Linked DNA regions of Homo sapiens: region 2 is reported to be linked to region 1. Evidence: microRNA targets listed by miRTarBase, many of them from high-throughput screens and not tested one by one. Region 1 holds a microRNA gene; the other region holds the end of a gene's coding sequence.
What was found. Region 1 holds the annotated microRNA hsa-miR-3126-5p (UGAGGGACAGAUGCCAGAAGCA, at 2,412-2,433, shown strand). A microRNA usually pairs through its seed, bases 2 to 8, with sites in the 3' UTR of a target mRNA and lowers its output. Matches are read on the target gene's strand: a 7mer-m8 pairs with bases 2 to 8, a 7mer-A1 pairs with bases 2 to 7 and ends in A, and an 8mer does both.

Region 2: miRTarBase lists GABRQ as a target of hsa-miR-3126-5p. Seed matches in the 3' UTR shown: 7mer-A1 at 1,831-1,837 and 7mer-m8 at 2,353-2,359.

Annotation. Positions count from the first base shown.
Region 1 is chr2:69,101,280-69,106,809 of GRCh38, forward strand. It overlaps MIR3126 (microRNA 3126), which reads left to right and starts at 2,403; the gene lies at 2,403-2,476. It overlaps ANTXR1 (ANTXR cell adhesion molecule 1), which reads left to right. Exons shown (of 18, transcript NM_032208.3): 10 at 1,563-1,661.
Region 2 is chrX:152,652,969-152,657,968 of GRCh38, forward strand. It overlaps GABRQ (gamma-aminobutyric acid type A receptor subunit theta), which reads left to right. Exons shown (of 9, transcript NM_018558.4): 9 at 1-4,574. The coding sequence ends at 313. All of the region lies in intron 2 of MAGEA3-DT (MAGEA3 divergent transcript), which reads right to left. Among named protein-coding and RNA genes, the nearest start is that of GABRQ, 18 kb to the left of the region's middle.

The DNA of each region.
Region 1 (5,530 bases):
AAATGACTCATCTGTCAGAAGGCAGTGAGTCCCCCTTTTCGCATGGTGGTTCAGAAGCTAATGGCTGAGTTCTAAGGGCATGGCATTTGGTGCCTAACAGACCTCGATTCCAGTTCTGATTCTGACAAGTTACCAGCTGTGTGATCTTGGACACATTACTTAACTTCACTAAGATCAGTTGTCTCATCTGTACCTCCCCAGGCTGTGGTGAGGTTTAAATGACATCAGACATGTACAATATTTCACAGAGGGCCTGGCTCACATTGAGGGAGCAATTAGCATTAGTTATTATTGTCTTGGCAAACATGGCCTCTAAATTAGTTTCCTGGGACTGAAGGTGGCATATACTCATGACATTTATTAAGCTTCGAGAGTCCCATATACTAATTCTCTAATTTCATTATTCCTCCAACAACAAGTCTACATTTAGATGGCAATGTACTGTGTAAGATCCATATTCACAAACATTGCATTTTTTCCTCTGACCTTCAGTCTATTTCTCTTGTGATATGCCACATAGCATTATCCCGAGCCCCAATTTTTAGATACAAAAGGATGATAAAAGTGAAATAAAGTGGAACACTGACCATTAGATACCAACAAACTTAAGCAAATATTCCCAAACATTTAGCCAACTAATTATTGGGTTTTTTCCATGGTAGGAGTATGGTAAAGGAGAGTTGTTTTTACTTAATAACGATTTTATTCATGTGCATTAATCAAACATACATTATGCCAATGAGAAATTAATATGCAGGCCAGGCAAGATATATGATCTCTTCTATGCAGAGACAAATGAGTACTACACTGAGGGGCTGATATCAATTCAAGTAGGTAGTGCTTGGCAACTGACCACTGCTAAGAAAGACTTTGATTCATTCCTAAGTACAATTATTCCTACCTAGCCTATGTACTGTTACTGTGTGCCCAGTAGAGATAGGAATGCCATAGTGGTATCAAACAACTCCTGACCTAAAGGAATGTTTCTCCAGCTGGGGAAGAAAAGACAAGAGAACACCACCAGACCATACATAATGACAGTCCTACATTGTTCAGGACTAGCTGTGAATGCCCTAAGGCAGTGACTTTCTAAAATGTAGGCACCGTGGGCTCTTAAGAAATCCTTTCAGGGGAGTACAATGTGCAAAACAGACACAGAGGAGGTGAGTTGATTAAAGAGGAAGTGGAGGACCCCTCCCCTGTGGCTCCCTCCGGCTACTGAGATCACAGATTTTCAAACTGCCTGGATTTGAAAACTGGCTAAGATTTGAATGGACAGAGAGGAGGGAGGAAGGTGTTCTGCGTTAGGAGGACCAGTAAGCCCAAAGGTAAAAGGGTGGGAATTCAAATAAGAAGTGATAGGCCCTTCTTGGGACACCTAGTGAGGATGCACTGGTAAGTAGTGAAAGGAACCCACCTGGTTGCTTTTGGTGTTCAACCTAAATTAATTTTTGAATATTTTAAGCCTGGTGAAATAGTGAACAAATGCTCTAAATCAGGGCAGATGCGAAGCTTAAGGTTATTGGCCAAGTAACGAGTCTCGTCATTATTCTTTATTTCAGAGTCATTTCAAGTTGTCGTGAGAGGAAACGGCTTCCGACATGCCCGCAACGTGGACAGGGTCCTCTGCAGCTTCAAGATCAATGACTCGGTCACACTCAGTAAGTCCTTGCAGAGTCCATGGGTTTCTTCGACAAGTGGCTTCAAGGAAGGGAATTCCCACCCTTGTCTTCCAGCAAGGCCACACACATGAAACCAGCAGAAAAGAGTCTTATTTGCTGGAAAGACCCCCAGCAAGGGCATAGTGAGCCCTTACAGTGGTTCCAGTCAGAAAAGGCACCACTTGGGTGGGCACAGCCCCATGGGTGTCCAGCTTGGTAAGCAGAGCAAGGCTGGACTTGAGTCCCCGTCCTCCACAAAACACAGAGCCACAAGCCCCAGCCCTGCAGCAGCCCTCCGGAAGCAGCGGGGCACTGGTTTCCTTGTCCCCTGCCATCTACCGAGTGGCTCACTCTCAGGTGGGAGTGCTGGTGATGGTTAATTAGGACTGCAGAAACATGAGCCTCCTTAACAAAGTATTGGGACTCTTAAGGGTAAGTGTGAAAAAGGAATGGTCTAAATGCATTAATCTTGAATAAACCGAAAACCAAACCATTAGGCTTGCACATGTAGATTCTGCAGCTTTTTTCAATCTGGATGATTCTTGCGTGGAGTAGCCAAGAAACTCTCATCGTGGTGAATATCTTACATGAAATACAGGAATATGGAGTAAAACTAAGTGCATTTCATGAGAAAAAATGAATTATCATAACATTGGCTTCTTCACAAGACATTTGTAGCAGTCAAGTTCCTAATTTAAAGATGTACGTGATTCATGTGGTTGACCAGGAGAGATGGGGAAGATGATTATATGAGGGACAGATGCCAGAAGCACTGGTTATGATTTGCATCTGGCATCCGTCACACAGATAATTATTTATTCCACATCTGCAGTGATAACTGTCATAATATACTGCATTTTCTGTAATGCTATGTACCTTCTAAATGCTTCACATCTTTTTGCTACAACAGCCCTGAGAGGTAAAGAGAGCAAGGAGGACAGGAGGACACACATTTGTTGACTAATCACTCACACTAGTTTTCTCCTCCTGATAGCCTATTTTTTTTTTTTTTTTGGAGACTGAGTTTTGCTTCTGTTGTCCAGGCTGGAGTACAATGGCACGATCTCAGCTCACTGCAACCTCCGCCTCCCAAGTTGAAGCGATTCTCCTGCCTCAGCCTCCTGAGTAGCTAGGATTACAGGTGTGCATCACTACACCCAGCTAATTTTTTGTATTTTTAGTAGAGATGGGTTTCATCATGTTGGCCAGGCTGGTCTCGAACTCCTGACCTCACATGATCCACCCGCCTCGGCTTCCCAAAGTGCTGGGATTACAGGTGTGAGCCACCACACCCAGCTCCTCATAGCCTTTTGAAGGAGGTTATCTTGTTTTTAAAGAAGAAGAATTGAAGGGCTATGGATATTTCCTTCTTGACATCATAAAACCCACTTTAGTAGTTAAACAGACACATGCTGTGTCTTCCTCACAAACATCTGGAATTCCTGGCCTTGGAGTAATTCCAAACATTAGAAACATTCGGTTAGTTTTCTTAATATTTGGAAATGCTCTCACAGATCCAAAAAGTACGTGCTATTTGAAAACATTCTGAAATATCCCTGAGTAGTCACAGTGTGAAAGTTGGACGTGTGCCCCCAGCAGAGTTCTTTCTTTTTTCTCCCTGTCAATTGTGATGTCACTTAAGTCCCCCTTTTCTCTTTAACCAAAATCCCAAGTCTAACATCAGAAACTCCTGAAGGTTTAACTCAAAGACATCAATACCTTCCAAAGAAGACTTCCCAAACAAGCAGGCTTTCAGGCCCAAGCTCTCTGAAGATACATGGAAGTGGGCTGGGGAGAGAGAGAATCTACCCTATGTGCCGTTGCTCAAAGGTTACACAAGATGCTGTATTAAATAAGATGTGGCCAGGCACGGTGGCTCACGCCTGTAATCCCAGCACTTTGGGAGGCTGAGGTGGGTGTATGGCCTGAGCTCAGGAGTTCGAGACCAGCCTGGGCAACATGGTGAAACCTTGTCTCTACCAAAAATACAAAAAATTAACTGGGCGTGGTGGTGCACACCTGTGGTCCCCAGCTACTCTGGAGCCTGAGGCTGAAGGATCACTTGAGGCCAGGAGGCAGAGGTTGCAGTGAACTGAGATCATGCCACTGCACTCCAGCCTGGGTGACAGAGTGAGACCCCATCCAAATAATAATAGGAAGAAGATGAAATGCAAACTCACTATGGATTTGTCAAGTGAGTACTCGAAGGCCTATTTTCCAACTTCTTTGGGAAATTTTATTTCTTTCTTGGGAAACCAGTCCATCCCTCTCTCTCCTTTCTTCCTTTCCTAATATATAGTTGCAAACATATGCACAGGCTTGTCACCTCATTCATATTCAAAAAGAAATGGAGGTTGTTGGGGTAGGGATTTGGCTTAAATCACAAACCCGTGCCTTTAGCACAATACTAAGTTTGGAGAAGATGAAGGCAGTGATTTGATCATATTCTATGCTGCAAGCAACACCCCAAAACTCAAGCATACAGCTATTAAAAATATTCTAAGGGGAAAAATAGCGTTTGAGGAAAACACTTGGCCTTTAGTTAGTAATTCACCTGTTCATTTCCATGGAGAAAATAATATGAACAAGAACCTGTGGAGGTAGAAAAGATGAACAAATTCTAAAATGCAGCACGTTTAGATCTACATTTTTCTGTCAACTTTATAAATGTCATAGTTTCTACTGATTCCTCCCTGTAAAATAAAATACACTTAGATTCCTTTACCTTTCCCATTTTCCTTCCCCACCTCTATACCCCAAGTTTTAAAATGTTATCTGTTTTTATTTTTATATCACATATTTCTTTTTTCAAGATTTTTTTTCCTAAGTGCTGCATTGGAATTTGTGACAAAAAGAGAACATAAGTGCCATTATTAATGAGAAAGACTTAATTGAAGGCCCAATAATGAAGCTAAGGCTGTGTGGCTCTAGCCACTTCAAACATGAGGCAGACCTCAGGATCTTCAGCAAATAATGCAATAGCAAGCTATATGAAGCAAAATCTGTCAAAAGAACAAATTAAAAATGATATGGATAGTGGGAGATATTAATATGATTTTTCAAGTCTTAAAACTTAATTTAAAAGTTAGAGATATAGAGCATATATCTTTATGCTCTAAAGATATAGGTAGGGCATATAATACTTTTTTAAATGACTGTGAACAACTTTGCAAATTGATCATGCTAAGACATGGATAAAATGCCAATATATTAATGCCAAAAGTAGAAATTGTTTAGACACATTCTTAGATGATAAGCATAACCAGAAGATAGGTTAATACATGCTTCTCTCCCAATTTCCTTGCATTTGCTTAAAAAATCAACCACTTAGAAATCCAAGACAGTTTCTAGATTTGTGGTCAACAAAATAGATCCAAAAATCTGGATGAAATATGATTTTTAAAATTACATTGTGTGGCCTCACTCAAAGGAAAGAAGTGGGAATCTCCAAGTATAGGAAACAAAATGGGAATAAAAACCTAAGTAAGAAACAAAGTCACAGGGGCTCCAGGCCAGGCTGCGGGCTGTGACCCCGATGCTGATGCAGATACAGGACACCAGATCTCAGGTCTGTGCCAAGGCATCACACAAAAACAGAGCCCCCTGCAGAAATCAGGCTCCAGCAGGATACACCAATCATTTAATTGGGCAAGGAAGCAGGCAGGGGATGAAAATCCACAGGTGTAATGATGTTACACCACCCATGTGATACAGAAGCACCAAGTCAAGAAACTAGCCCCAAAATGTGTCCGTGATCTTCCTGATCTCTGTGGCCCTACAGAGGCCATGCACCTTCACCCTGTGGGAGTCTTCCACATAGCCCAGCCCCACAGCATGCCTGCAGCAAACAACCCCCTAAAGGTGGGCTG
Region 2 (5,000 bases), not on the chromosome of region 1:
AGCAGGCTGGGACCTTGATGACAACAATGACAAGAGCGACTGCCTTGCCATTAAGGAGCAATTCAAGTGTGATACTAACAGTACCTGGGGCCTTAATGATGATGAGCTCATGGCCCATGGCCAAGAGAAGGACAGTAGCTCAGAGTCTGAGGATAGTTGCCCCCCAAGCCCTGGGTGCTCCTTCACTGAAGGGTTCTCCTTCGATCTCTTTAATCCTGACTACGTCCCAAAGGTCGACAAGTGGTCCCGGTTCCTCTTCCCTCTGGCCTTTGGGTTGTTCAACATTGTTTACTGGGTATACCATATGTATTAGTCCCCCAGTGCTCCAGAACAGCGGGAGCACTGTGCTGTGCTCCTTTCAGTTTCTTTTGGGTTTGTTTTTCCCTCTTTCCTTTGTTCCTTTTATTTTGTGGTTATTTGGGCAATCCAATAAGTTCATACTTCTCTTTATAAACATGAGGTGGGGAGTAATTGGAAAGAACATGTTCTAGCTGGAAGGGAAGGGATTGAGGAGGAGTTGGAGGTATACAGCACATGGATTTCCTTTCCTGCTAGAAGACTCTCACCTTTTCAAAGACTTGTAACAAGGAATAAGCATAGAAAAGCCCCTGGAAATGTTTAGAGGACAGAGAAGAGCCAGGTTGGGGGATGGGGCAAGGATCTGGGCCTTTTGCCCACAAACATTTCTGGGGGGCTTTTCTGTCCCCCTTGAGGTGTCAACATTTCTTTTTCATTACATGTTTTCTTCTTTTTTTGTTTCCTCCTAGGGATTATGGGTCTTGTTCACCCTCTGCTTAGGGCTTTATAGAAGAAAGTCAAGCTGGGTTGGGCTGGGGTTCATAGCTAAAGGGCTAGCCATGGCTTAGAAGTTCAGGGAACTTCCTATAGGAAACTTAGGGAGCATTTGTAAGTGCCTTTCCCCCACTGTATGGCATTTGACTGTGGTGTTTTGATGCAAGCGTGGAAGGGGAATGTGGGTGGATGGGGCTGCAGAGTGAGACATCAGGGTGAGAGAGCACATACTCAGCTTGTGGGGTTGGCAGAGGGTGGGGGGTGATGTCAGGTTGGAAATTACACAGTTGAGCTGGCCTCTTCGGAGGGATTGGAACTTGCCTATATTTCTGCTTCAGAACGCTTGGCAATAGAGACTCAATACATCTGTCTAAGTCAGGAGTTAGCTTTCCGTCAGTTGCTGAGTTGATCACCAGTTACAGCACTTGGTGAATAAGCACTAAGGTTAGGATAATTCACACTTGCTATTTTACCATCTGATCTAGACTAGCAGATGAATATCTATCGTAAGTCTATATACTAATCCTTTCTATTTGTCTAGTGCATAGTAAGTGTCAACAAGCTCCCTGACCCATTACATCACTGGAGCCTCACAGGAGCCCTGTAAGCCAGGGAAGGCAAAGCACATTGTCCCCAGTGTTCCAAGGAAAACGAATGGAGCTTATGCCGCATGCTTGAGGACATGCAGCCAGTGAGTGGTAGATCCACCCCACTTGCTCTTTCTTGTCTTTTTCCTCCTGACTGTCCCAACTGAGGCATTTCCTTTTCTTCCCTCCCTAAAGAGGGTGCTCCAGAGGGCCCCCACCACATCCTCTAGCACCTGGGGCATCTCTGCAGGAATAGGCTGGTGACCAGCCAATGAGCGTGACGTGAGCAGATGGAGAACACACTCTGCCCACTGAGCAGGGCCCCTAACGGAAGTAGGATTGGCCAGCATTCCAACTTGCCAAGCAGCTCCACCTCACTGATGGAGGTTGTGAGGGAGTGAACTTTGCCGAGCACTCAACATATGCCACCTCTTCCTCCCTATGCAGTCTCTCCCTCAGTCCCTTACCCCTCTACCCACTCACCCTTTAACTGTGCTTCTGTGTTTGTGTTTCTGTATATACCTGGGTGTATGCATATGCAGCAGGGTGGGTGTATGTACATATACAACCATTTGAGAAGCTGCATAGTGCCGTGTCTAGTGGTGTAAATCTACATTGGTGTGTACAGAATTGTATCTACAGCATGTGGATGCATGCGTGTGTGTGCACATCCCTGTGAAAGTGTGGCTTATGTATGTGTATGCTTGTGTACACATGGGTCTATGCTGAGTGCATGTATATAAGGGCATGTCTGCATATCTATGTTTATCTGATTTGAATGGGTGTGAAAGGAAATACCCCTGAAAGCATATGTATTCCCTGTTGGTGACCCTTCTAGAACCACTATAATTCCCTTGGCCTGCTCCCATATGGTGGAGGGGCCCTATTTGGCCGGGCTGCTTAACTGACTGTTTCTTTCCAACTTCCTGTTCCAGGGAGCAGCATCTCCCAGTTCCCTTCCACTGTTTGCCCTGTCCCTCCATCCATCTGTGCTGTCTCCTAGATAGAAGACTGGGGAAGTGAATGTAGTCCTAAGAAGTGGTGAGCTAGTGCCTTGAGGTAGGAAGTGGTTAATCCATGGAAGAAGCTGCAAGTACAGAGCATTTCACTTTGTCCTAGAGGAACATGTTTCGGGGTAACAGGCTGGGGAGTGAGGCTGAAAGAGGCATTGAGAATAGACACTTGTACAGTCACATACACATACACACACACAAATCTTGTACGACAGTTGAAAACAAGAAAGTTACCACTGGAAGAGCTAAAATTGCCTCTTTATTTTTGGATACCCCATACAGAGATTCAGGTGGAGGGGAGAGCAGTGACTCCATGTCTGAAGCTCCCAATGTGGCTATTGAAAGGCTGGCTTCCTGGAGCCTAAGCATTGGTTGGTTGACGTGGATTTGGGTCTCCAGCACCCTGGAGGTGCTTTCAACCCTGTGGTGGCAAGCAGTTCATTTGGGATAAAGTCATAAAGGGAGATTGGAGCAGTGTGAAGAAAAGGAGGGTTTTAAGATTTGTCTGGAAGCAATGCACATGAAGGCTTCACAGCACAGAGGAAGGGCAGCGAGGCCAGTTGTAAATATCTCTATAGATCCATATAGCTAGATATAATACTATACCTTAAAAAGGATATCTTGCCCTGACGTGCTGCAATGAGAGCAGTTGAACTCTACTGCGACTCATACTCTGTAGGTTAAGTGTCAAAATGAGGTGGAGATTTGGCAGTGACACCCTTTCGGGAACGTGAACCTTCTGAGTTTGCTATGGATTTGGTCATTTTAGCCTGCACGTTGCCAGATCTCCCCTTGTTGAGTCTTGTATGTGGTCTGTCCTCTGTGTCATTTGAGTCCTCAGCTGTCCCCAACCCCTTCCCAGCCCCTCCCCAGCCTGCAGTCACCCCCTGTCCAGCAAGCTGCCTCCATCCCATCCCTCTCCTCACCTCACACCAGGTAACTCTGGAAGTGCAGAATGCTTGGTAGTTTGGAGCTTGGGCAGCATCTGGGATGCAACAACCCCTATTTTACTCTTCTACCCACCTTCCATTTCTTTCCTTCCCATCGACTTCCCCGACCCAGGATCCCTTCTTTGCCACTATCATGGGAAGGACACCCCTGTCTGTCTTTCTGAAGTATCATTTTATTGTGGGGATGTGTGACACGTTTCCTACCAAGTTCTTGCCAGTTCCATCTGCCACTGTGGGGTGCCTTTGCACAGGTCATGGACGATCTGCTGGGTCTTACTAGAGCCTGTCAAATGTATTCTTACAATTCATGTCATCTTGTTAATAGCAGGACTTCAAAGTCTTTGCATATTTAGAGCTGAGTTTTGCTGAGACTGTGGCCATTCCTAATGAGGTTTCCTCATTCCATATATATAATAGCTAACCCTTAAAGCCATTAACTAATGAATGCATTTATTAAGCTATCCACTCGCATGGTACCCTGCTGTGGTGATGAGCAGTAACTTTCTAGCTATTCCATAGCCCAACATCAAAGGAAATCGTGACTCGTCCTACTAGAAGTGTAGTGTCTTTGTGTTTGTTGTGTAGTGTCCTGTGATCAATATAAAATCTATATTATCAGTGTTGGGTTTTCAGGGGAGGGAGGGAGAGGATGTTAAAGTCTCTCTTTGATAAACTTAAATTATGAAATAGCCCAGTTGTTCAGGGTCACTTCTATTGACTCAATTTGTGTGAGACTTTGCACTCACTATCTCGCCGGCCGGACTGCATGCCCAGGGTCAGTAGTCAGCAGAGCTAAAGGTGCCCGAATTTAGCACAGCTGGCTGTGGTGCCTGACATAGGGCAGTACCGGGGGATTCTTCAGAGGTCAGCCAAGTCGGTAACATTCTGTGAAGCAGATTAAATACAGTAAAATCAAACAAACGGAGGTCTTTGGAAGTGATGCTGGGCCCAGGCAGTGAAAATCAAGAAAAGAGGAGAAAGACCAAGACCTGGATGTCCTGGACGACCTGACCCAAAAAGGGGCACAAAGCAGCAGAGCTTCACCAGGTGACTGGGTGGCTTCTTTGTCCTCATTAAATGTACATCTTTGCATGAAAAGGACCTTGACTGGTCTGGACTTTAACAAAGTAAAATATGAAGAAACGTAAAATTATGCTTCTGAAAAATATACTGAAATAAAATTTTGTAAATAGCTAAAAGAAAAATAAATAAATATAATAACAAGTACTCTACCAGGTCATCGTGTTTCCTCTCTGTTGGATTAGAAGATATTGAGCAGGACAGCTGTCTGGGCCCAGGAAACCTCTGGCTTCCATCACTCACTTCCCATGGCCTTCCCACCGCTTTTCACATAGACCTCTTCATACCCCAGGACAGTGGAAGCCATGGTTTTCAAGCCGAGGGGAATTAGCAACAGCACAGTTTAAATTAGTTTTGATTTTTGCAGAAGCCATTCTTAATCTTCTAAAACAAAACTTTTAAAACAGAACAGGCCACTGTGGTGCCAAAATACAAGGTAGAAGTTTCGTTCAATTTTATAGGGGGAGAGCCCCGACTTGAGCCCGCAAGTCAAGGCTGCAGTAAGCCATAATCGTGCCACTGCACTCCAGCCTGGGAAACAGAGCAAGACTGTCTCAAAACAAAACAAAAGGGTTGGA